Linked DNA regions of Homo sapiens: all the other regions are reported to be linked to region 2. The links are microRNA targets in miRTarBase. Many come from high-throughput screens and were not tested one by one. Region 2 holds a microRNA gene; each other region holds the end of a gene's coding sequence.

Region 1 (10,859 bases), not on the chromosome of region 2:
TGACACCTCAAAGTAATCTTATCCCAGCCATCTTTATGCACCCAAGACACAGCCAAGAAATAGGAAGTCTGCAGAAAACAGATACGGAGGAGGCCAAACCCCAAAGCTCAGGGGCTGTGTTCACAGGCAAGCCCTGGAGGAACTCCTCTTGAAGGGCCTGTTTCCTCTGACTTGGTGCTGGGTTCCCATACGCCTCCCGATCCAGAATAGAAAGAGAAAACAAGACTGCTCAGAGTGAACAAGTCACAGCAGCAGGAAGTCGCAGGAATCGGACCACAAGTAAAAAACATGATCAGGCACCACAAACAGCCTTGCTCTGTGCTCAGGACAGTTCATTTAATCCTCACGCAGCCCCACAAGGTAGATGAGGAAGCTGAGTCTTCAAGAAGTAAAACAGCCTGCTCAAAGTCACCAGTAAGCAACACTGGGATATGAGCACAGGCGTGTGTGGCTTGCAAGCCAGGCTCTGTCTGTAAGGATTTAGGGGAGGTGGTGTGTATCTGGGATCACGGAGCACAGGACACAAGCTGGGACCCTTCTGGGTCTCACTGGGACTTCCGTGTACAAATGCACACATTGTAAGTGTTGGGGTTCATCAGGAGGCTCTCGGACATCTAGCAAAGGCTGAGTTTTGATAATGACCCTCATACATTTTGCTGGTGGACACGACAGTACGGAGTCTCTCCCCCAGCCTAAATTTAGCAAAATACCACCGGCCCTGGGGCCCCAGGAGAGCAGCTCCTTCGCCTCACTCCCTACTGCACCCTTTTCATTAGGGACTCTTTCCCTTCCCCTTTCACTTTCTATGTGGGATGCAGCTGAAGTCTCCCTGAGCCTCAAGGCCCATGAGGGTGACAGGAGAAAAGCCAGGGTAGAGATTGTCACTACTGTTATCTCACTGGTGGTCCTGACCCCACAGCCCTTCTACCAGTGCCGTATCCTCAGCGTGTGCCCGGTGAGTCATGGTGGTGGAGACCCACAGTCATTTCCCAAGCTTCATGCTCTCAGCCACGTGATTCCACCTGTGCCGCACTTCCTCAGTTTATCTGCTGTGTCCACCGTGCTGACACGGCGATAGCCACTGGGGGCCTAGCAGTAACCACACCCTGTCTCATGGAGCTAGCTCTCTAATGGGACACATGACCACACAGTTCATAATGATGGTGGGGAGTGCCCTCTATGGAGGGGATGTAAGAGTACTTACAGTTGGGGTCATCTAGGCAGGAAAAGTATGGTCATGTTCCCCAGAACTCTTAGAAATGGATCACGAGGTAGATGAGCTTACAGGAAACCGGGCCAGCATGGTGCCATAGAACAGTTCCCATCCCTGCCAAATTCTTCAGCCCTTGTGTCCAAGGTCAGATGCCTTGTCTTCCACAAAACATTCCCTGGCGTCCACCCTTCGTCCCCTTCAGCTACAAGTGACCCTCCTCTCCTGCAAGTATTCATCCTTCTGAAGGCTGGGCGCCAGGCACTAACAGACAGGCAGCTGCCTCCCAGACATAAGGAGCATGGGTCCTAACCAGGAATAAGCTTCACAGCCATTGCTGTCAGGCCAAGCCGTGGTCCAGGCACCTGCAGGCATTAATTCGTGTCCTCAGCCCCACACCCACGGGGAGCAGGTGTAGTTACTATTCCCACTTTCGCGATAAGGAAGCACAAGGAAAGTACATCGCTCAGATGTAAAGACACAAAGAAATAATCAGAGGTGTGATGAGTGCTACAGACGCCTTATAGGCATGGGTAGCAGGGACCTTGTTATAGGGAAATCACAAAGGAGGGTCGGTCTGGTGATGTAGCTAAGACCTCAAGTCTGAGAGTCAGACTTTGATTCCAGTCCCTGCTCCGCAAGTGATCAGTTGTGTGACTTTAAGTACATCACTGAACTTCTCCAGGCTTCACTTCGAGCCACTGTAAAATAAGGATGCTAATATCCACCTTACGGAGTTAAACATGGTCCTCTGCACAGACTTAGCAGAGCGCCTGGCAGGTGTTGAGTTCGGGAAGTCGTAGTTTATTGCCCTCTGGTCTGTGATGCGACCCTGGCTTGCCTCTCTGTTAGGCTGCAACATCGCTGTGGCAGTGTCTATATCCGATCCAACCCCGTGTCCCTCCCCCAGAACCCTCCCTAAGGTCATGCATTTCTGTTAGGCGCTCAGTGAGTATTTGTAGATTGCATGAACGAGGGAGGGAATGCATGAGTGAGTAGCTGTCACCACATGGCAGGTATCTTTGCTGAACACTGGTTTAGTCTTCTGACAAAAGCCTCCTAATGTAGCCGCTTCAGACGAGAGCAGGCTTTTTTCTCTGAAGTACCCAGCCAACATCGTCTGGCGGTGTCTGACTCTGTGGTGTTGGCGGGGACACGAACCAAGCACAGCTTGATTTTTATGGTTTAATGTAAGAGATGGAGCCTCCACCACTGTCGCTTCAGAAGATTGTTGTTTTGACGTCTCAGCCACACAAATGGAGTGAAACTGCCATTATAGGAGATAAGCAGGGGAGACTGAGGTGTCAGGATTTAGGACCCTGCCTTCAAAGCAGATCCACCTGTTGCCCCCACAGTTTGCGAGTGGCTCCATTGAACACAAAGGGACTGATGGTTGAATGCAGGCGGGCTGCCGGGTGCCCCCATCTGAGGACGTCTAACTGTGTCCCTTCTTTGTCTCCCGTCCCTCCCCACTGTCCTCGCTCTGCAGGAATGGCATCACCAGCTGCCGGATGCGGACTGAGAGTGAGCCATCTTGTGGCTCCCCAGTGGTCAGCGGAGACCCCAAGGAGGATCACAACTACAGCAGTGCCAAGTCCTCCAACGCCCGGAGCACCTCGCCCACCAGCGACTCCATCTCCTCCTCCTCCTCCTCAGCCGACGACCACTATGAGTTTGCCACCAAGGGGAGCCAGGAGGGCAGCGAGGGCAGCGAGGGGAGCTTCCGGAGCCACGAGAGCCCCAGCGACACGGAAGAGGACGACAGGAAGCACAGCCAGAAGGAGCCCAAGGATTCTCTGGGGGACAGCGGGTACGCATCCCAGCACAAGAAGCGCCAGCACTTCGCCAAGGCCAGGAAGGTCCCCAGCGACACACTGCCCCTCAAAAAGAGACGCACCGAAAAGCCCCCCGAGAGCGATGATGAGGAGATGAAAGAAGCGGCAGGGTCCCTCCTGCACTTAGCAGGGATCCGGTCCTGTTTGAATAACATCACCAATCGGACGGCAAAGGGGCAGAAAGAGCAAAAGGAAACCACAAAAAATTAAAAACAAGTCACTGATTTGTTTTGAACTTACGACCATTTGGTTTCAGCATGTCAGGAGATTTCTAATGATTTGTGGCAATATCAGCAATTTTTTTTCTTTTTTCTTGTTTTTGGTTTGGTTTTCTTTCTTTTCTTTTCCTTTTATTTTGTTTTAATTTGCCCCCTCTTCTTTGTTTTGGACCCTTAAGAATTTTATTTTTAAAGGAGATTGAAGCCATAGAACTCATATTGACACTCAGCTGTTTTACAAAAGCTTTTCATTATCTGAAGACAAAACCGAAAAAGCCAAAATTACCATTGCTTCCTCCAGCTTGTCAGAAACCTGTGGCTGAATCCGCAGGGATGTCAACGTCAATATCACAGGAACACACATTCGGCACCTAGAAGGCACGTGGGCAAAGTAATCATCGTTCAGGCCCAACCCTTAGGTTTAAAAAGTCAGGTTGTCCATCCCATTGGGTTCACTGAGTGAAGGCACATAAAGCAATTGAGGAGGAGGAGGAACCCCTCGTCCCCCTAGGAGCAGACCCAAGCTTGTGGCACCAGGCATCTGATGGTGCCAGGAAAGCCACTGGAATTGTCACACGGCGAGCACAGAGGGCCGGCCACCAGTCCTCGATGCTTCTGAACCCTGAAGCCCGATGACATCTTACGAGGTGGACGTTGGACTGTTCATGCGCATCGGGTGTCAGTGACTCATGGAGAAGAAATGGGGTAAATTTTTAGTGATGTTGCTAATCATTGAATTCTGTTCTCTATTAAATTAAGAAAATGTTCCAAAAGCCATAAGCCTGAAGATTGGCCCTGTGCACGCACGCACACACACACACACACACACACACACACACACACACACACGAAGGAGAGAGAGAGAAAACTGATGGGGAAAACAAGCTGTGTCTTCTTAACTGCCCAAGTGAAAAGCAACCAAGTCCAGGAAATTACAATAGCTGTTAAGGAAAGGAAATAATGGTACAGATCTTTTTCTGTCTATCAAAACTATTTGATCCAAGTGAAAAAAAAAAAAAAACTAGAAAGCTACGGAACCTGCCATTAGTATTGTGGTGTATTTTTAAGATTAAAGGTACACTGATGGACAAAAAAAAAAAGTAAAACATGGCAAAAAATAAAATAACTCCTATACTGCCCTCAAAATGGAGTTTGCAATTAATATCAGGATTTATCTTTGCAAAAATCAGTGATTTCCACATTCAGCCAGTATAGCCAGCAGAAATTTCTGATCCACAATGCATGGATTCCTTTGAAGAAAAAAAAGAAAAAGAGAAAAAAATCACAAAAACAAACTTTTTTTATTCAAAAGTAACAAAGTTCTTGTAAGGTAAATAATGTATTTAGCATGAAGCATGAATTATTTTCATATAAATATAGAAAATAGAGAAAAGGCTATGCCTGTAATTTTTAAGCCCTTAGGCTTAGAGTTTCTTTTGGTTTTCTTCTTTTTTCTTTCCTTTTCTTTGCTTTCTTTTTTTCCTTTTTGTTTTTGTTTTTGTTTTTTGTTTTTGTTTTTTTTTCGGGTTATTTTGTTTTGGTTTTTTGAAGCAGGTGTTTAAGGTTTAACCTTCTTCAGGGACAAATTCTGACTGTTGGGGAACTTACTCTGCAATATAAAAATATCTTCATGCTCTGGTAGGGCTTGGATGGTTGAACTCTGTACTGCCTTGTGTGCACTTCAGCCCCGACCCCCTCTGATTCTCTGTTGAAAAGTGTGTCCTTTCTCTCTGTCTGTACATGTTTAACATGACGCAATAATTTGAGGGCAAACTTAGTAGTGAGTGTGTATGATAGAATCAAGAGAATTATGGGACGCTTACTTGAGAAAATCATTACCATGATTTGGTTCTAGGAAAAAGGCAGTGAATAATTATGCAAATTAGCCAGAAGAAGGGGAACCGTGCTAATGGGCCTTATTGGGTGAGGGGACGAGATGGGGTTCATGTGAAGGAGGAAGCGATGCCGAGGTAGGAAAGGCCAGCCCCAGACATCCTATCGCCACAATGCCATGTCGCAATAGGAAGCAGGGGCCGGCCATCGCTACCTTCAGCACACTGACCAACCTGGAATTAAGACCACCTAGATTGCGAGAGCTGAATTTAGAAACCAGACAACGTCATGCAGCCCAGAAACTCCTGTTGTTACCTTTGCCTAAGAAATTTTCTTTAATGGCGGGGGCGGGGGGCGGGGGTACAAAGAGAAATCTCTAAAAGAATATGATCTTCCATCCAAGTGGAGGGAAACTTTAAAACAAAAACACCCAGTACTGTGGCTCAGGATATGATGCGTGAGGAGAGGGAGGGAACAGAGATGACCTTAACTTTTAAAAAAGGGACTGCTGTGGGCCAAAGCCAAGCCCATCTGCCAGGACGAGGTAATGTCAGAGCTCCATCAGCCCGGACAGTGGGAACTAACTGGTGCATTCCCCACACTTACCTTCCGGTGGGTTGCTGATGAGAGAACCTGAAAAAACCTACACCTCTACAGCAGGTCGAATTCATGACCTGAAGCTGAATACTTCCAGCATATTTATTCAGGGTGTAGGTGGGAATAAAGTATCTTCGCAGTGCTCTGTTCCCTCCGTCTCCCCAGACATCTGACACCCTAAAAGCCATCCACAGCTATGGAACCTGAGCGACACCTTGATTTGTGTTGTCACCTGACCAAGCCTAAAGACCTCCAGCTCAGTCCCCCACCTTCATCCCACCCCACAGATGATAAAATTCAGACCTCTCTCCTGAAAGGCAGAGGTTCAACATTCAGGACTGTTTCTGGCCGAGGACTTCTTCCAATTAAAACCCCCACCGTGGGCTGTCTCCCCTCATTTCATTTTTCTAAAGGGGCAGAGGCCTCTTTTAGAAAATAATAAAATGCAATGTGTGTGATTTACTTTTCTGATCTCTTTGAGAAATAGAGAAATATAAAAGTGTGTTCTTAACTCCAGAACCACTCTTTTTGCATAAATACCTCATCGGGCAGCTTTCTAAGTGTGATTTTCCTGAGTCTCCCTTCGTTGGATCTGCCGGAAGACTTGTCGGGGAACCTTTAGTGAGGGTACTTCTTCCTATTTTTCTTCTGTTTTTGGAGGCATACACATTATGCATAACCAAAACAATGGCTCAATTGTGTTTAACTTTGTATTTTGATTGTTGAGAACAAAAACAAAAAGTATCAATGTGTATGTGGCTGTTTGTAGTGAATTTATTGGAGAATGAGGTTGTCCGTGTCCTTAACAAGCCAAGGGGCAGGAGGCACCCTCTCTTATCCCCTCCTCCAAGAGCAGTAGAGAATTTAAGCACAAGCCTATTTGTGAAAGAATATTTTGCTTAAGTGTCATTCACTTTAGTCTTGGAATTCCTTCCCAAACGTCAGGTGTTCTTTTAGCTTCCAAACTAGCATATGTATCCATTAGTCTGACAGATCGCCTGAACACCATTAAGAGGTGTGGCGTTTTTGCTTTCATTTCTCCTGCTGGGAGAAGTGGCGGTTCATGTGTCATTCCAGTATCTCACATACTCACACGGGGCAGGGGGGAGGGGGAAACGGGGAACTATAGCAATATTTAAAGATGCTTTGGAAACCAACCGTGAACACATCAACACCACGACGTCTACGATTACTTGCTATTGGCCCTCGGATACATTTAAGAGAAAGAGACAGTCACTCTTTTTTTTCTTAAATGATATACATATAAACAGTTATTTTTATCCTATTATAATTGTCTTTTGTCTTTATCTAGTACTATGTGGAAAGGGTTTGCATCATAGATTTTTCCCAGCCTTATAATATACCATAAGCTCCTACTTCCCTGCCCCTCCCTAATCAGTATTCTTTCAAGAGTTCTTTGGTGAAGCCATCTATCTGAAACTAAAATGAACCAAACCCATATTTCACTGGTGGTTGGAGAAAACCATGGCCAAAACGATTGTGGCAGGTCTCAATCTTGGGAGTTTTTAAGAAGGAATGTGCCAGAGGCCGATTCCCAAGAACAGAGTTTTCTTTTGTTTTGCAGAGGCATTCAATGTGTCTAGTGCTTGCTGGCCACAGCAGTTACTACCACAGAGCCTTCTGGGAGGGGCCGTTGTGTTGAAGGAGGCTCCTGCCTGAGGGACAGCATCAGGCAGTGGGCTCTGTAGAGTGAGAACCAGGTGGAGGCCTTCTGTGCCCAGCTCAGAGTTCTGCACCACGCCAGGACTGCCCAGGCCAAGGGCTACTGACGCAAGTTCCACTCATTCCACTCTGTGGGGGGCGCCTTGGGCCTCTCCTGGAAGGGCTCTTGGAGAAGGAATTGGAGTTACGTACAAGTGACCTAAATGGGAAGCTTTTCTAGATGAGATTGGATTAAATTCCATGTGATTTCTCTTTCCCTTTAATCCAGGTTGGGACTCGTTTCTTTCTGGTGGATCACAGCTGCCCAGATGTTGCAATTGATTTTTATGTTTCTGTAGAGAAGTATTTTTCTTTCATCTTCAGGATTTTTTTTGCCACCAAAAGAAAACATTGGAACTCTGTGTTTCCTCTTGATTGTGACTTCCCAGTGTTGACAGTTAAGTCCTTAGTGTCGTAGGTCCCAGCCCACCAATACTATATCAAACACTGTTATGCACATAATGCAGCACTGTGATCTAATTTAAATAATACTTTTTTATTATTTATACTACTATATATAATATACATCAACACTTTTGCTATATAACCTAAGTGATAACCCTCTTTTAGTTACCTGCCAAACTCTGGACTTGGTTTATATTGCAGTTAACACAGTTACAAAGCTGTAATGGTGTCTTTTTTTCCTTTGTAACGGAATGTGTAAATCAAAGTATATACATTGTGTGGTGTTCCTGTTTCTGGAGTTTCATGAGGATTTACACATGGCATTCAGTGTTCTGTATAGATCTGCCTACCTTTGTGAATTCATCTGTTAACCCCTCTTCCTTTGAGAGAGCACCGGCGATGGTGGTTAACTCCTTGTGTTTTCTCTCTCTCCTACTGGTTATTCTTGAATTAAGCACAGACTCGTCAGCTCGGTTGCTTTATCATGAATAATGTGTGTGACCTTGCAGTTCTTCCACAGTTCAGCAAACAAGTGCTAGCTTCACTGACCAAAAATTAAGGAAGGAAAACACAGTTTTTAAAACGATCCATCTTTTAACAGCCGAAACCGATGTGTCTATGGTGCTGCACCTTGCTGTTGTACTTCTGAAATCAGACGTGTGTGAACGATCATTTCTGACTTAACCGTGAGATGCTCACGAGTACCCTTCCTGTTGTTTTGTTAGCATTGAAATCGAGACTATTTATTTGGAATATATACAACAGTGTTTTTCCACTGTATTTCATTTGCAAAAGTTGAGAACTGCTTTCTCTACCTTTTGCAAAATAATTGATATTCCATATTGGATTCTCAAAGACTTCGATATGGTGAACCTATTAAACCTAGAAATTGTATTCATCCTTTCATGACTGTGGCCTGAGTTCCCCAGCCCCTCTCCTCCTTTTTTTTAGATGAGATTTAGCACACTCTCAGTTATTTAAACATGCAACATTTCTTGAGTATGTATGTTGAGGCCATCTGAGCTCATAGCTGATTCAGTAACCAGTTTCATGCTGTGTCATTCACACTCACTACTTAATACTGCCATGGTGAAAATGTGGAGGAAAAATGTATCCATGTGTGTCTGGGAAGCATATACACTTGTACATTTTTTAATACTCTGATTCTGTAACATTTCTGAGTTTTGTTTTGTTTTACAGAAAAAAAAAAAAAGTGATAAAGCAATCAGAAGACCAAGAGGTTTACTATTGATGCTTAGGGTCGTCTGACCTTGGCTGGCCAATAGACCTACACGGCCAAATTAATTTACGAGAGTAATAATTTTTCAAAAGCCAATTTTTTTTCTGTATTTTCTGTATGAAACTGCCAATATCATGAATAGAAAGGGAGAACCATAAAGGAGAAAGAACGTGATGTTCTGTTATGTTCATGTAAACCTAAAGAAACAGTGTGGAGGCAGGCGCGATCAGCCGAACTCTAGGGACTTGGTGTTGCTTGGAAGGCATCCATACCTGCATTTTGCATTCTTCGTATGTAATCATATTGCCAAAGACAAACTATTTCATCATTTATTGTAAATAACACTTTTCCCCAGACCTACCATAAAGTTTCTGTGATGTATTGTCTTCCAGTTGCAATAAAAATTACTGAGTTGCATCAATTGAAGAAAAACACCACGTAGTGTTATGTGTGCTGCGCCTCCCTGTGCAGATGCTGGTCCACAACGTCATTTCTGTTCCTTACCTGCGGTCAGGCGTGTGTGCAGTTTTTGCAGTCTGGTTTCGGGGTTCTCAGCTGCATTTATTGTGCCCATCCTCACACGTGCGTAGGCTTGGGTGGGCATCACACACTGCTCTGCAAACACAAATGCACATTCGGAAGCTGGGCTTACCCGGGATCTCAAGAGAATTCCAGCTTTGGTGTAGCTGGTGGCTGGCCAGCCTCCCATCATGAGCCTTAAGACTTGTGGTTTAGACAGAGCTTCCCTTTCATTTGGAAGTTGTCAAACAATAAACTGCAATTGTACTTTAGTACTGGAGCCTGCCAGCCTATCCCAGATCCTGAGGGTTTCTTGTAATGACATTCCTAGCCCTAAGACCTTCATCTGCCAGGGTTTATTACGTCATCACTCAAGTGCCCACCCCAGACCCTCGCACACACATCCCCCAGGAGCCAACAAGGAGCTGATGGGAGAGAGGGGAGTGGGAACAAGGAAGGGATCACAGGGCACCACTCACCGTGCTGGAGGAGTAGAAAGAGGATGTTCTCGTGCATCTCTCTGGTTCCTTTTGTGATGGTTTTGTTTTCAGCATGTCCTGTCTGCAGGTCTTGCCACCAACAGTAACCGTAGTGTAGAGTTGGCCTTGGACACTACCCTTCTGCTGGGCCCCCACATCCACTGGTGTCTTTGTTCTCCAAGATGCTTGGGCTGCGTCTCCTGTCCTCCTGCAGTTATGGTATCATTCTGAGGTCATAGGCCCATCTGTCCTGGTAAGCTTACGGGGATAAATTCCTCCCCGTTACCCATCTCAAGGTGGTCACCTCTGGATCCTGTGGGTTTGGCCCTTATTGCTGCCATATCTGATCCCACTGTTGAATCACTTTCAAAGCTGTGATGTGTCCTCCAGGGTACAAATCAATATTTGAGGAGACTTGATTGGGAGGAAGAGCTAAAGTCATTGGGAGCTGAATCTGATGAATCAAGTAATCATCTAAATTGGGTAGTGCTTGAGGCCAAATATAAGGTGGGGCCACCTTAAAACAGCACCTACAACAACCATTTTCAATAAGTGACTCTCGAGACTGGAGGAGAGACCCCACGTGGATGATCAGCATGCCTGAGGGAGCCCTGTCTAAATGATCACACCTGCAAAATTCTGATCAGGTAACACTGTCTTCAAATTCCTATGGGTTCTTAGAGAAGGGAACTTCTCCCCATGGTGTCAGGGACCATGAAGGCTCTTCTGGGTTTGAAGCTGAGTCTGGATGGGTGCCAGTGAGGGGCACTGCAGACCCTAAACAGTTTTCTCCTTACCTTT
Region 2 (5,000 bases):
AAGCATGAGAGATTATTCATTTCCCCTCCCACTCTTTTATGTTTCCTGAAGAAGGCAACTTATAAAAAGCACTCTATAAATAAAAAATCATATCAGGTTATAGCAGAACCAGCAATACTTGGAGGCAGAAAAGGAGGTCACCTCCCTGAGAGGTCTTTAGGTTGCTATTGAAAAATACCTTTGCCATATGTCCCACTACCTGAAATTTGAACATTGGGAAAAGTTAGCATGTATATATCACTGTAGTTTTCCATCACCATCTTTTAAAATACAAATCTCCCCAGTAAGGGTAAACTTGTTCATATATATCATACAGCTGCATCTCTTCATTTCCCAGGTAACTCTCCGCAGGATAGCAAGCTCAGATTGGGGTACTGAGCGAAAGGGAAGTTTAATTGAGAAAGGGAAGCCTACTTTTGGATCACGGGAGTTTGGGGCAAGTTAGGGAATATAGCAGAGATGTCTGAGGACTTCTGAAAATGTTTGTGGCAGGATGAGGATGAGGAGTGGAATTAACAGGCTTGGGTAGGGCATTGTAGTATATGGAGGATTGCTAAATATTGCTTTTTACTTTATCCTGGAATCTGATAACAGTACTTTTTTTTCATAACATCTATTTGTTCACTCATTTATAAAATGTGCATAAATTATCTGCAGTATAAAAACACTACTGAAAATGCAAAGATGACAAAAGATATGTGCCCTCGAGGAGTATAAAATCTTAAACAACTTTCAATAACATTTTGATAAAACAGAGAAAATAGTATTGAATCTCATTCAGTTTTGTTAAATTTAAGAGCCTAAGATGAATGCATAATTTTGAGTGGCTTGGAAATACTGTATAATAACCTTTCATAATTCACAGCAAAATTTCCTGTTTCACTCATTATTGTTAAGTCCAGAAATGGAAACTAAATCACTGAGAAACACATCTTTTTCTAAACTAAAGCACTGCCCTTGAAGTAGAAAAATTTACTGAGGATTTTTTTTTTGTAACCAACAAAGTCTTTATGAAATATAAATCAATATTAGAAACCAAAATTAAATTCATAACCCCAGAAACTTAACCTAGACTAATGGAAGGCTTGACAACTTCAGCAGAACAACAAAGGGAATTTTTCTTTCATCTCGAGTATATATGAAACTCATTCTCCTAAAGAGAGTGAAAATATTGATTTTCACTTGTTTGGTAAGACCTAATATAATCTCTGACCTTCTAGCAAGTCACTACCCTACAGTCAAGGCAACAGTGACAATGGTGATAGCATGTTGAAAAAAAAGAAAAGCCAACAGTTTAAACAGAATCGTTATATGGTGCTAAGGACCTGTATGTTTTAATAATCATAAGGATTACAGGGGACCAAAAGGATCTTTAAAAAAGTATACAATTACAACAAATTGTTCCAGGGGTTTCTCAAACCTGACTTAACTACAGAGATTTTCCCTAAACTGTTGCCATTTCTGAAACTCCCAGTTATTTATTCCTTGATGGTCTTCTGAAGAAATGAGATTTGAATTGCATTAAGACATTATGTAGAATGGGAGGAACAAATCATTAGAATTATAAGGTCAAGGGCTAAAATAGAAAATAAACTAATGAGCATCTTGTCCAGCTGTGTATTCAAGTACCATGGGGAGGAGAAGGTGTTAAAAAAGAAGATTACAGGACCCTAACCTCAAAGATCCTGATTTAATTTCTCTTGGTTGAGACCTGAGAATCTGTATCCCAAGTGACTCTGCTGAGGATTATCAGAGATCCACACCTGGAGAAAACCAGCTCTAGTCTTTCTATTTTATAAATGATGATGCAGAGGGTAAGAACGAAGTTGCATATTTGGAGAGTAGAGAAATATCATTCAATCACCCTCCAAGGGGTCACTGTAGATTTAATTAAACATTCAGACACTCAAAACTATGATAGGCGCTGTTGCCATGAGTCTTCTCAGAAACTACGTCAGGTGATAGAGGTCCTCTCCATAAGAGTCCTTGCTGCATTTCATGTGTATGACAGCTCACACAGCCCTCTGGAAGCTATACCCTCAGAGACACAGTTTAGGTTCAAGGAAACAGATCCACATTATTGAGATGGGGAAATTGTTCTGATTTAGAAGAGCTATCACCCTAACAGGTACAGGCCAACGTCATTCAGGACAACACCACTGACAGCTTCTGTAGTGGTTAATATTAGGTGGCAACTTGATTGGATTGCAGAATGCCTAGCTAGCTGGTATTGTTTCTGAGTGTGTCTGTGAGGGTGTTGCCAGAGGAGATTGACATTTTAGTCAGTGGAATAGGAGAGAAAGATCCACCCTCAATGTGGGTGGGCACCATCCAACTGGCTGCCAGTGCAGCTAGAACAAAGCAGGCAGAAGAAGGTGGGATAAGCTGGCTTGTGGAGTCTTCTGCCCTTGGACATCAGACTCCAGGTTCTTTGGCCTTTGGGCTCTTGGACATACACCAGTGATTTGCTGGGGGCTGTCAGCCCTTCAGCCACAGACTGAAGGCTGCACTGCTGGCTTCCCCGCTTTTGAGGTTTTTGGACTCGGACTGAGCCACTACTATTTCCTTGTTTTCCCAGCTTGGAGACTTTTGGGGACTTTGACTTGGGTTCATGTGAGCCAGTTCTCCCTAATAAACTTCCTCTGATATATACACATATCCTATTAGTTCTGTCCCTCTGGAGAACCCTGATTAATACAGAAAAGTGGTACTGGGAAATGGGACATTGCTATAAAGATACCTGAAAAGGTGGAAGCAGCTTCGGGACTGGTTAATGGACAGAGGGTGGAACAGTTGGAGGGCTCAGAAGAAGATGGGAAGCTGAGGGAAAGATTGGAACTTTCTAGAGACTTGTTAAATTGTTGTGACCAAAATGCTGATAGTGATATGGACAATGAAACCCAGGCTGAGGTGGTCTCAGATGAAGATGAGGAACTTATTGGGAACTGGAGCAAAGGTCACTCTTGTTATGCTTCAGCAAAGAGACTGTCAGCACTGTGCCCCTGCTCTAGGGATCTGTGGAACTTTGAACTTGAGAGAGACGATTTAGAGTATCTGGTGGAAGAAATTTCTAAGCAGCAAAGCATTCAAGATGTTGCCTGGCTGCTTCTAACAGCATATGCATGAGCAAAGGGATGATCTGAAACTGGAACTTATATTTAAAAGGGTAGCAGAGGGTAAAAGTTTGGAGAAGTTGCAGCCTGATCATGTGGTAGAAAAGAAAAACCTGTTTTCTGGGGAGTACTCAAGCTGGCTGCAGAGATTTGCATAAGTAAAGAGGAGCCGAATGCTAATAGCCAAGACATATTGTATCTTGGAATTAACTAACTTGTTTTTTATTTTACAGGCTCATAGGTAGAAGGGACTCGCCTTGTCTCACATGAGACTTCAGACTGCGGACTTTTGAGTTAATGCTGGAATAAGTTAAGACTTGGGGGACTGTTGAGAAGGGATACTTGTATTTTGCCATGTGAGAAGGACATGAGATTTGGGAGGGGCCAGGGACGGAAAGTTATGGTTTGGATTTGTGTCACTGTCTAAATTGCATGTCAAATTGTAATTCCCAGTATTGGAGGAAGGGCCTGGGAATTACAATCTGACATGCAATTTAGACATGATCATGGAGGCAGATTTTCCCCTTGCTGTTCTCATGATAGTGAGTAAGTTCTCAGGAGATCTGGTTGTGTAGCACCTCGCTCTTTGCTCTCTTCCTCCTGCTCCAGCCACATAGGACATGTTTGCTTTCCCCTTCGCCTTCTACCATGATTATAAGTTTCCTGAGGCCTCCCCAGCCATGTTTCCTGTACAGTCTGTGGAACCATGAGACAATTAAATCTCTTTTCTTTATAAATTACCCAGTCTCAGGTAGTTCTTTATAGCAATGTGAGAATGGACTAATACAGCTTCCAAAGACCTTCAAGGGATATGCCCCATATCAAGAGTCCCTGCACCTAGGAACACCCAAAGCTGTGACTTCTTCTCAAGTATTTATGGTTCTTCCAACCTAGATACATCTCATCCATCCACGGGGGACATTTTTATCATAAAATAGTTGACATATACCATTTAACTAGTTTCTAGGATAATAGAGCTAGGCAGTTAGCCAAAAGTCCATTTCTCTTGCAACATGATTTTGTTAACACACCAACAATCATAAATACAATTCTCAAAATGGTAACTTTTACGAGGATCTACCTAAAGGGCTCTCACTGATAACATCTCACTTTTACCAAGATATGCCAGTGATGGGAGGATGATGAAGAACAAGACAGCATTTATTTTTTAAAACTGGTAAATCTTTCAAAAAACTCAGTGCATGTTGCTCTGCAGTCTAGAAGGTGCCTCAGAATATTTGCCTCACCTTTCTCTCATCTTACAAAATAGAAGTCTCATTTCATTAGGACACTCAAGTTTTCAAGAGATAGACAAGTATAATGGACCTAGTAAGAAATGAATTTTTATATATAACTTATTTGAGTTGGGGAAAGATAAGAACAAAGGCATCTTGATTATTGCTCATTCTTTGTTACTACCTATGAACTTGGGAAAGTCAATTGTATTCCTACTTTCCTTTTCAAATTCTTTCCAAATCCAAGCTTATTCTTGTTATGGTCTGAATGTTGTGTCCCTCAATGATTTATATGTTGAAATGCAATCCCAAATGTATTAATAGGTGGGGCCTTTGTGAAGTGACTATATCATGAGGGTGGAACCCTCCTGAATGGGATTAATGCCCTTATAAAGGAAGCCTGAGAGAGTTTGTTTGTCCTTCCATGATGTGAGGACACAGCAACAAGCCACCATCTATGAAGCAGAGAGCTCTCACCAGACACTGATATTGCTGGTGCCTTGATCTTGGACTTCCCAGCATCTAGAACTGTGAGAAATAAATTCCTATTGTTTGTAAATTACAAGTCTAAAGTATTTTGTTATAGCAGCCCAAACAGACTAAGATAACACTATTTTTCTGTTATTTTAATGTATTAATTTCAGGCAATTGA
Region 3 (10,859 bases), not on the chromosome of region 2:
GTATCTCCTGCCTTCTAGCCTCATTCCCCAAATATTTCCACTGATGTACTCCCGCAGGGGACTGTGAAGGTGTTTGTACCCCTGGGAGTCTGGAAGGAGGTAGCCTAAATCAGTCTACAACCTGCTGGAGTTAGCCTCAAAATTTATAGGATATCTGCATTTGTGCTATCCATACTGGTTTGAATACACTAATAATATAATCCTTTCTTCCCAAATTCTGGAGTAAAATTGATGCTCTGAGAACATGTGCCATGTTTATTCTGTGGCTTCTCCTTCCTCAATCCTGGCTACACTGCCTGCTCCAGCTTGAAAAAAATGACTGGATATCCCACTCTTCTAATGTTGGGATGTTCCCAAAAGAGTGGGGTGGGGGGTATTGGGTTTATGTTCTGGTTCTTATCTTCCCCCTCTCATTCTGTTGGGGACCCTCTCCCTCGTCTACCAAATTTAAAAAGAAAGAAAAGGAAAGAGATGTCAGAATGTTTCTTATTCCCCATGATGATGAGATTGAGGGTCCCCTGGAGTACATGGCAAAAATAATGCAAGAATTTCCTTTTCTTAAAAGTCAGAAGAAGTGGCATCAAAGCCCCCTTGTAAGAATATTAGTAAAATCCAAGATGGTGGTCACTCAGCTAAATAAATATAAAGAGCAGCCTCATGAAGTGGAAAAATCAAGGGCTTCAAAATTAGACAAAGGTTCAGATTATGGCTCTATTTAGTAGCTGTGTGACTTTGAGCATGTTACTTAACCTTCCTGGCCCTCCCTTCCCTCTTCTATAAAATGGTTAAACCTGACTTAAAGTTTATGGTGAGGATTTAGTAAAGTAATATATGTAAAGCCCTTTGCACAGTATCTGGTAAATAGTGGGTATGCAATAAATGCTATTTATCTTAGTGTTCATTTGTGGAGAATCAAATTAAAAAGCCTATACCAGACCCGAACTCAGCTCTGTTACTAATTGCCTGTGTGAATGTGAGCAAATTGCCTAAACTTTCTTGCCCTTGGTTTCCTTGAGAGGAAATAAAATGAGAGGATTATATTAGATGATCTTGAGTCCCATCCAGCTCTGAAAGTGTATTTCCAACATTTGCCTGTTGGAGGCAGTGTTGAGCATATTAGTGCTCCATGTCAGAATATTAAAGAGCAACACAGGGTCTCCCTAGGGGCTGCTAAACCAGTGATGGGAAGAAAATAACAGTTCATGCATTCTTGTCCTTGTGTTCACTTACTGACAGTGCATCTGGACTGAAACCCTTTCTTGTGACCTAGGTGTTCTAGACCTGTTGGGTGTATGGCTTGCTTCTCAGGGAAGATGTTTGCACCACCTGACCTGAATCCATGGTGCCAGTGAGTGAGTGCCAGTACCCAGGAGAGCTGGCCTCATAAGGATAATAGAGTTAAATGTTTTTGAACTGGAACTTTAGCATTAGCCTGGCTTCATGGCCCAGACAATAAGGAGCTGTTTTATGAAGTTATCAGAGGGGGCTGAGTGTGTCTGAGGAACAAGAGCTGTGTTATTTGGATGCACTGCAAGAGCCTTATTAAGCTTGAGGAAGGAGAGAGGATTTCCCCTTTGGAGAAAATGCAACACTGTCCAAAGACTGTGAGGTTTGCCAAGGACATTTGGACAATGAAGTGCTGCAGGTGCAATGAAGTCATGTTTCAGGCAAAGATTGACCTTAAAAAAATAAACAGAATGCTGGAGATGACAAATCAGGCTTGTGACTACTGGTGACGCAAAAGTCAGATCCAGGCAGAACTGGTTGAGCAAAGAAAGAAAGTCCTTCTGCTTCTGGTTTTCGGTGCAGTGACAGGCCTTGGTGCCTTAGTTTCTCCTCAAGTTAAGTGGGTGAATGGCAGAAGCTCTGGTGGGAGGCTGGAGGCCAGAACGTGAGAAGCCAATGCTGCTTCCTCTCCCATGGCCGCTCCTGCCTTGTCTCTGCCTTTCAGTGTGGTGCCACCGGTAGAAGGCTTGTTTTGAATCTCCAATGATCCATCAGCTTCTTCTTAATTTTATATTTTTCTTCTTTCCACCTGTTTCTCAAGGCTTGATGAATGTAGAACTGGCATAAACAAATCCAGAGTGGATACAATTAGAAAGAACCAGAGACATTTTTTCAAATTGGACCTGAATCTACACCAATACATCATCTTAAAGCATATAGGAGTTACTTTCCCTGCTTGCTTTTGAAAGTTTTCATTTGGTCTGTGAGTTCTCATCTGGACTGGTAGTGTCCAAATGACCCAGTATTGTTGAAGAAAGCTTTATCACATATGTGTAGGATTGGGTTATGGAAGAAGCAAAGGTTTGAGGAGGCATTCAGCTAAACATCTTCAGGAATGTGGTCAAAGAGAGGCTACAGGAACAACCCCAGGGGCCAGCCTGTAACTCAGCTTTCTTTAGAGGATAGACCCTCTCTGTCATGGTAACCTGGATGAAAGCAGACCATCAGGGAAGTGAGGCAGAGCTGAGTATGCAGCTCCTGGCATCTGGGTGGGAGGCAGACTCCCAGACTTCACACATCTGCCCCATTCCTCTGAGGTCCTGAGACTCCTCCTGCAGCCGTGGCAAGTTTGAAGCAAGTGAAAACAAATTATCCCAACTTCTTTGGGATTATTGAAACTGAACTGAATTTTGAATCTTTCAGAGGTTTCTTAATAAAAATTTAAGAGTGGACAGTGAGATGCAAGGAAGGCGGAAAGTGTCCCCCAACCCCATGCCCTACCTCCTTGGAAGAAAAGACATGGAACTAAGAAATCAGATTGACTAGTATTCTGGTGATAAGAAAGCAAGCAGTAGAATACCATATATCCTGGGCATGTGGCCCCACCTTTCCTGAAATTCTGGGTGGAGGTTACAAAAAAGAAAAAGAAAAAGAAAAAATGTTTTCATGTCCCTAGGGTATTTGCAAATCCAGGTCACCAGCTAGTCTATTTCAACACCCATAGCTTGGTGTATCTAGTGTTCTTGCATGTTCTGTCTTTTCTCCAGAGGAGAGGACAAAGAGGAACTCATAAACTCTTTCCCAACTGATGCTTTTACAAGAGCTATTTGAAAAGATTCCACAATGACTTTTTGTCCCTTAATCTACAGCTCTGCTCTGAGACTGGATTTGAAAAGTAAAAATGTGATTAGGATTGTTTGGTTTGGCATTGAGGTTATTGGCAACCATGGTTCTTTAGGTCTGGCTTTGAAATATCAGGGTGCTGGTTGGTTCTCAGGTGGAAGGAAGCGGGGCATTAGGAGTCCTACCACTTTATGAGTAGTAGAGGGGGAAGTTGGTAGGTGAGGGACAGGTGGATTCAAATATTTGTAGATGTTTGCTTTGCATTTCCTTGCTGCCATATGTTGTTGTTGTTCTTTTACAAATCAATCTCCCATACAAATCAGCTGGCCGGTTTTCCTGAGTCCTGGTTTGGCTCTCCTGGAAACTTGGAGACGTGGCCTTTCTCAACCCCGCTGACGTTTCACACGGGGTTTCAGGAGGTGACTGCCACCTTGTGGCCACACTTAGCAAGTCCCCTTCCACCAGTTCACTGTGGTCTCAAGGCCAACAGTTTTCCACAGACTTGTCATTCTTGCCACCTCTTCTACACCTGACCCCTTCACCTTCCAGAAATAACCCTGGTGAATGTGCATCTGATATGTTGGAAATTATCTTTATATGTTGGGGAAATGCAAAAAAGGGAAACTGCCTGGACCTTGGGTCTAGACAGTGAATCTATTGCAGTCATTGGTGGTGGTTTTGGTTTTGGGTATTAGTACATATCCTGATGTGTCTGTAGTTAAACAGCCTCTGAGAAGGGTCTACCTCGATTCCTTTTGAGTCCCTTGAGGGAAACTGGTGTGCATAGGGTGGGTGCTTTGAGAGTATTGCTTACTGGATCTACCTTTGGGAAATGCAGTTGTGCTTGGAGGAGCAGGATAAGCAGGAATCAGCGAGGAAAGTTATGAGCATTGAGTCAAGTTGACCATAGACCTTGGGATGAGAGTGGGGCACAGTGTCTTTTAAACATGGTGAAAACTCATGAGAAAATCACCCTATTAAATAAAAGGAATCTATAAATCCTTTTATAGAGGGTTGAATAAGCTGATCTTTGAAGTCTCTTTCTTGCTTCAAAATAAAGCTATGCAATGCCGCTGGTACTATTTATAAAAATGTTCCATAGTGTAGAATGGTTTCAATAAAAGGAAGATTTTTGTTTCCACTGATGTTTCTTGACTTTCACCTGAATTGACAACACATAATCTTTTTCCATTTCAACTTCCTTGATGAAGTGGGCGTGCTGGCACCACCCAGGTACCTGGTCTCTGTTTTTATGGACAAAAAGAGTTCAGCCTCTCACTCGGCATGATCTTTTCTGCAGTATTTTCGTGTGTGTGTGTGTGTGTGTGTGTGTGTTTTACTTATGACTCCTGAATCAATCTCTCTCTTTTCTTTCCCTCCCTCCCTCCCCTTCCTTCTTTCCTTCCTTCCTTCCTTCCTTCTTTCCTTCTTTCCTCATTAAACAGGGAGTCTAGTGAATTTTCATTACCTAATTGTGCTGTCCCACCATGCCAATTTCTACTTAGGTTTTCAGATCACAGATTAGCATCATTGACCGTCAAAACTGAAAGGGAAATTAGAACTCATTCTAGTCTAATCTCTCATCTGACAGATGAAGAAACTGGCCCAGAGAGGTGAAACAACCCAGCCGATGTCATGTCGTAGCTAAGATGACAGCTGTTGGCCTGTACCTCGGCCCTCAAGTTTCCCATGCAATGTGCTTCCTACTATTCATTGTTGCCCCGTCTCTAGGTAAGTCTTCTGTAATTTACATGCTTGTTGAAAGGATCTGTTTCTGTTTTTTCCTCCTCCCAGTTTGTTGAAGCCCATGGTTAACTGAGAAATGCAAGTGGTGCCTAGGTTTTTCAGGGTTATGCCTGTCACATCCACACTGCCGCAGTGAACAAAGCCTAGAAGCCTGCGGCAAGGGAAGCGCCTCCATTCAATGGTGGCTGGCTGCATCCCCATGAGGTCCGAGGCCTGATGGTCAGCCCAAGGGACTTTTCATCTTGGTTCTCAAAGCTTGGTAAGAGTGAGGATATTTCCATTAGAAAATTGCCGACACTAAGGCTCATCCAGTAACTGGTTGGCAAAGGTACACACTGCTCTGGTCAGACAAACATAGGCACTACAGAAAATGGTGCTGGGCCTTGAGGAATGGGAGAGGAAAGGGAGAAGACAGCTCAGGGAACTGGGCATGGATCTGGGCAGATGTTGCGGGGATGGTTGCTGATATTGGATTTGGAGGAGAAATTGAAAGGTCACGGCTTCTAGAGCATCTAGCTCTCTTGGGCTTAAGATCAAATTGTGCTAGTGAAGACAGTGCATCTCATAAAATGGGAAGTAGGCCCACAGTTATCACCTATTCACCTTTGGATTTCTGGATGTAATTTCCTTTGGCTATTGTCATTTTTCCTTTGCAAGGCAGAATAATAAAAGAAGATGGAAAGGCTTCTCATGATCTCACCTCATTAAGAAGGTCATTCCTGTTTCCCATAGGACCAAAAAAGAAAAAAAAAATCAACCTCTTTCCAGGATTATCAGTCAGGGGTATAGCTCTCTGGGCATATACCTTCTTCTCCTGACTCTTATTAAGCCACCTACACTAAGGAGGGCTTGGGTGAAGATAGATATGAGGCCTTCGGTTTGCAATTCAGAAAAAAAGAATCTGTGACAAATAGGACCAGAAATGGAGAAAACAGGGCTAGGGAAGATCTGTGTTTCCCATGGAAACTATAATCTCTATGGCAGTGCCCTGATTTTGACTTCTTCAGTCCTTTCCTCAATGCTTGACCCAAAAGTGCTAAAAACTACAACCATCTCCCCCTCCTACCTTTGCAGAAAGTGACTGTCTGTCTGACCTGAGGGTGGGGGCAGTGGCTGATGACTCACAGGCACATAGCCACTGTGCCACCCAGGGCCAGGAGCAGGCAATGCCTTGGGAACTAGATTCCAAAATGCTGGTTGGGCTTTTGAGGCTCTGGGGTCTAAGACAGGATGGGATTAGGCAAAAGACTCCATCAGGGCCAGAAAAGAGCCACTGTTCTTGAAAGGTAACAGGACATGTGGCTGGTATAATAAGAGTGTCAGAAGATGAGAATCTTTGGCCCATTATAAAGGACTTGGGGCTGGATGCAGTGGCTGTAGCCTGTAATCCCAGCATTTTGGGAGGCTGAGGTGGGAGGATTGTTCAAGGCCAGGAGTTTGTGACCAGCCTGGACAACACAGTGAGACCCCCATCTCTACAAAAAATAAAAGAAAAATCAGCCAGGTATGGTGGCTCATGCCTGTAGTCCCAGCTACTCAAGAGGCTGAGACGAGAGGATCACTTAAGCTCAGGAAGTCGAGGCTGTAGTGAGCTGAGATTGCACCACTGCACTCCAGACTGAGCAAGAGTGAGATACTGTCAAGAAAGAAAGGAGGGAAGGAGGGAAGGCAGGAAAGAAGGAAGGGAGGAAGGAAGGAAGGAAGGAAAAGAACCTGGGTTGTTGGGATGCGGTGTAGTTGATCTGTTTCCTTTTAAGGGGAATTGTTGGCAAAACTCTCTTGCTGAGGCTCTTTTCTCTGGGCCAGTGTGAGAACCTGGCCATGTCAGGCTGTGACAAAATCACAAATACCTGGAAGGCAGAGGACATCTCAGAAGAAGGGTAGAAAAATGTGTGTGCCTGTCACCATAACAATCTGCACCCCACGACTTGGCTTTGAATTGGCCCTTTAAGAAAACTTCCTACTTCTCCTCCTTGGTGGGAAAGGAGGTGAAGGTTGAGGAGGCCTGGGTAGGAGGGAGAATGGAGACTGAGGGTCAGGCTCCAGGGCAGCAGAAACCAAGAGCAGATGTTAGCCAGCGGATTCCTGCGACATCCCTGCTTCCTTCACATACTCTTAATATGTTGCAAAACACATTGCTATTACCCTCCCCCCTTGTTTCATATTATAAAATACAAACAAATGACAGAAAATATTGGTTGGCTTGCAGCCGCCCACTGCTCAGAACTGTAAGGACTGCCGTTTTCTCCCTGCCATGAGACGGTGGTTGTAGGGGCGCATCTTCATTTCCACAAAGGGGATGGAGAACTCATGGCCTTTCCAATGGTACCAGTTGATGCCCTGGGCGTGAGAAAGATAAGCATGTCAGGTCATCCCCCACCATGGAACGCCCCACTTCAAAAAAGGGGTAATTATGGGAACAGGGAATCCACAATGTGGGGTTAGCTATTTTCAGCTAACATGAAGCTTCAAGGCCGAGTTCCCAATAAAGTGAAAGGGGCAGAGTCTCTTTCTAGCTTTCTCCTTAAATGTGCCGGTGGCCTGGGTCTTTCCAGGGAACATGTTGCAGGTCATTCCTTATTGCCAGCTTTGTTTTTGGCTTCCAGGAGTGGCATGCACCAGTAGATGGTTGTGAAATCCCAACAGGGTGGAAGCATTTGGAAGAGAATAACTGTGTTTGACTGCTCACTCCTAATGGGAGACTTAGGCGGTTTCTACCTAGGGTGACAAACCCTTTTGGTTTGCCTAGAACTGAAGGGCTTCCCTGATGTGGGCTGTTTCAGTGTTAACACTTAGAAAGTCTAGTTGGTCATGGTGGTCTCCCTGTCACCCAGCTTAGCCTATAAACTTGTGGTCTCTGATAGGGAAAGATTGTCCAGTTCACACTGGTATTTTCGATGTCTACCTTCCTGGGACCATTTTTAGGGTAAAGTTGAGTCTGTGAAGCTGTCCCCAGGACTGATAAGCTCTCTTCATGGGATCTTCTGGATCCAAGGGCTTCTCTGGGTAAGTTCTGGCTCCTGGGTCCTTTCCTTTCCTTCCTCTGGCTTCTACTCTGTCCTGATCTTATCCCATTGTCTGCATTATTTTTCTCAAGACTCAAAATATTTCTTTTTAAAGGGAAATGAAGGACTCACATGTGCTTTTAAAATATAAAGCTAAGGGAGCACGGATTCCACAGCTCTGGCTCATTCATAGCAGAGGTGGAGCATCGCTTACCTGACTGTGCCTGGACTCCCCGTACTTCCCATTGAGGTTGGTCCGGTGGCAGTTCTTATACCACCATGCTCCCTTGTACGACATGGCACAGTTAGTCACTGCAACATCATTGTCTCTATCCTCTGTGGAGAAAGGGCGTCCTTGATGATAGCTGAGGGAGTCCCCTGCAAAAAAGATACATTCATTAGGCTGTCCCATTTGTCACTGCTTTATCAGGATTTTCTGGACACTTGACCCACTTCCAGCAAACCTGGCTTCCACTTATGGAACCTTTTCATTTCCACCCAGTTTCTCAGAGTGGCTGTGCTGAACTCTTACTCCACCTTACCCCTGGGGCCAACCACTTCCATGCTACTCTCTCCAACCCACTTCCTAATCCCTTTGACCACCTTTGCTGAGAATTTTCTCCACTTAACCCCATCTCATTGCCCACCCCACCCCCAACCCTCAGCTGTTTCCTCCCAGCCTGTACGTGGACACAGGCCACTCATGGTTCCTCCTGTCTTCAGAGGAGATGGTGATGAGCCAGGCAGACTTGGGCCATTCTAGGGCACCACCATGCAGCCTCAGCCTGGCTTCTCCCTGGCTTACCAGGCCTGCTCAGATGACACCCAAGAAACTGCATTCTGAACTTGAGGCCACATGGGAAGAGGGGCATCAGCAAATTAGAATTCCCATCCGTAAGAAACAGGATGATGAAAAAAACATAACCATGTCAAAGGAGAAGTGCTTGGGACATCTGGGCTGTATCTTGGGGAAGAGCGGACTTCAAGAGGGAGACATGGCCTGTGATCACTGTCACCAAATATTTGATGGGCTATTGAGAAAAAAATTAAATAAATTCTGTGGGGAAGTATGAGGATTAGTAGGTGGAGATGAAGACATTTATGCAGCCAACAGACACATAAAAAATGCTCATCATCACTGGCCGTCAGAGAAATGCAAATCAAAACCACAATGAGATACCATCTCACACCAGTTAGAATGGCGATCATTAAAAAGTCAGGAAACAGCAGGTGCTGGAGAGGATGTGGAGAAATAGAAACACTTTTATACTGTTGGTGGGACTAAAAACTAGTTCAACCATTGTGGAAGACAGTGTGGCGATTCCTCAAGGATCTAGAACTAGAAATACCATTTGACCCAGCCATCCCATTACTGGGTATATACTCAAAGGATTATCAGTCATTCCGCTATAGAGACACATGCACACATATGTTTATTGCAGCACTATTCACAATAGCAAAGACTTGGAACCAACCCAAATGTCCATCAATAATAGACTGGATAAAGAAAATGTGGCACATCTATACCATGGAATACTATGCAGCCATAAAAAAGAATGAGTTCATGTCCTTTGCAGGGACATGGATGAAGCTGGAAACCATCATTCTCAGCAAACTATCTCAAGGACAGAAAACCAAACACAGCATGTTCTCACTCATAGGTGGGAATTGAACAATGAGAACACGTGGACACAGGGTGGGGAACATCACACACCAGGGCCTGTTGTGGGGTGGGGGTAGGGGGGAGGGATAGCATTAGGAGATATACCTAATGTAAATGACAAGTTAATGGGTGCAGCACACCAACATGGCACATGTATACATATGTAACAAACCTGCACATTGTGCACATGTACCCTAGAACTTAGAGTGTAATAAAAAAAGAGAGGCATATTTAGGCTAAATATACAAGGATAAATTACCTAAATATTAGAGGTGTTCACAAGTGGAATAGACTGCTTAAAGAGGTGGTGAGATTTTTATTCTGAGGGGCAAACAGGCTGCGTGTTCTCTTTTGGGGATATTGTGCAGGGGGCTCAGGTAAATTGTGTATTTAAGGTGAGGGATCAGACTGTAATTAAATTATAACAGTTTATAAAACTTTTAGCAGGATCAGGATTTGTGGCTCAGGATGTTGTGAAGGGGGCTCATGCTACTTATTGAATGAAAGAGGTCTTGGGTGCTTTTGAGCTTGTGTTAAGCGAGGAAAGACCTATTCTGATTCTGTGGCTTCTGAGTCCAGGCTCACAGGGCCACTCAATGCCTCTGATGCCTCCCACCACAACTTAACTCTCAGGAGGTTGACCTTTATTTTATAGGGAAGGCTGACGCCCTCACTGGGGAGGCCCTAACTCAACATGACATGATCTTCATTCCGTCTTCTTCGTCTTCCCCTTCCAGTCTCCAGGGACTCAGATTTTTATGCCCATCTAGAGTTAACCCCACCATCTGCAACTCACTCTTTCCCATCTCTTCCAGATCCTGGAAAAGTTAAAACATATTGCTTACTTTTTCCTTTTTCTTTTATTTATTTATTTTTTTGGTGTGAGACAGTCTCGCTCTGTTGCCCAGGCTGGAGTGCAATGGCACAATCTTGGTTCACTGCAATCTCTGCCTCCCAGGTTCAAGCGATTCTCCTGCCTCAGCCTCCCAAGTAGCTGGGATTACAGGCATGCACCACCACACCTAGCTAATTTTTGTATTTTCAGTAGAGACGAGGTTTCACTGTGTTAGCCAGGATGGTCTCGATCTCCTGACCTCATGATCTGCCCGCCTCGGCCTCCCAAAGTGCTGGGATTACAGGTGTGAGCCCAGCCCTTTTACTTCTATTTTTTTTTTTTAAGTTTTCACCTCCTCTCACCTTAAGTTACATTTATATCCTTTGTCTTAAAAATTCTTAGATTAATCCTACTCCTTAATGATTATTTCTTTCACTATCAGTTCCTTGATTATGCGGTCTCCACCCACATCCTATCTTCTCACTCCCTGCGTCTCCCTCTGTCATCTAGAATTTGTCTTCATTATTCCCCTGGAGCAGTT

The links. The annotated mature microRNA hsa-miR-4666b reads UUGCAUGUCAGAUUGUAAUUCCC and lies in region 2 at 3,584-3,606, opposite strand. An mRNA with a match to its seed (bases 2 to 7 or 8) in the 3' UTR can be bound and repressed. Matches are read on the target gene's strand: a 7mer-m8 pairs with bases 2 to 8, a 7mer-A1 pairs with bases 2 to 7 and ends in A, and an 8mer does both.
Region 1: the mRNA of FOXN3 is a reported target of hsa-miR-4666b. Seed matches in the 3' UTR shown: 8mer at 8,802-8,809.
Region 3: miRTarBase lists TNR as a target of hsa-miR-4666b. Seed matches in the 3' UTR shown: 8mer at 2,970-2,977.

The regions. Positions count from the first base shown.
Region 1 is chr14:89,154,810-89,165,668 of GRCh38, reverse strand. It overlaps FOXN3 (forkhead box N3), which reads left to right. Exons shown (of 6, transcript NM_005197.4): 6 at 2,700-9,492. The coding sequence ends at 3,255. Among named protein-coding and RNA genes, the nearest start is that of TRA-AGC15-1, 180 kb to the right of the region's middle. RefSeq lists enhancers at 123-252, 453-502, 1-678.
Region 2 is chrX:29,572,892-29,577,891 of GRCh38, reverse strand. It overlaps MIR4666B (microRNA 4666b), which reads right to left and starts at 3,614; the gene lies at 3,534-3,614. The region is part of intron 5 of IL1RAPL1 (interleukin 1 receptor accessory protein like 1); the gene reads right to left.
Region 3 is chr1:175,316,322-175,327,180 of GRCh38, forward strand. It overlaps TNR (tenascin R), which reads right to left. Exons shown (of 23, transcript NM_003285.3): 22 at 8,035-8,198; 23 at 1-7,155. The coding sequence ends at 7,036. LOC105371623 (a long non-coding RNA gene) reads left to right here. Exons shown (of 4, transcript XR_001738302.2): 2 at 4,661-4,800. Among named protein-coding and RNA genes, the nearest start is that of KIAA0040, 130 kb to the left of the region's middle.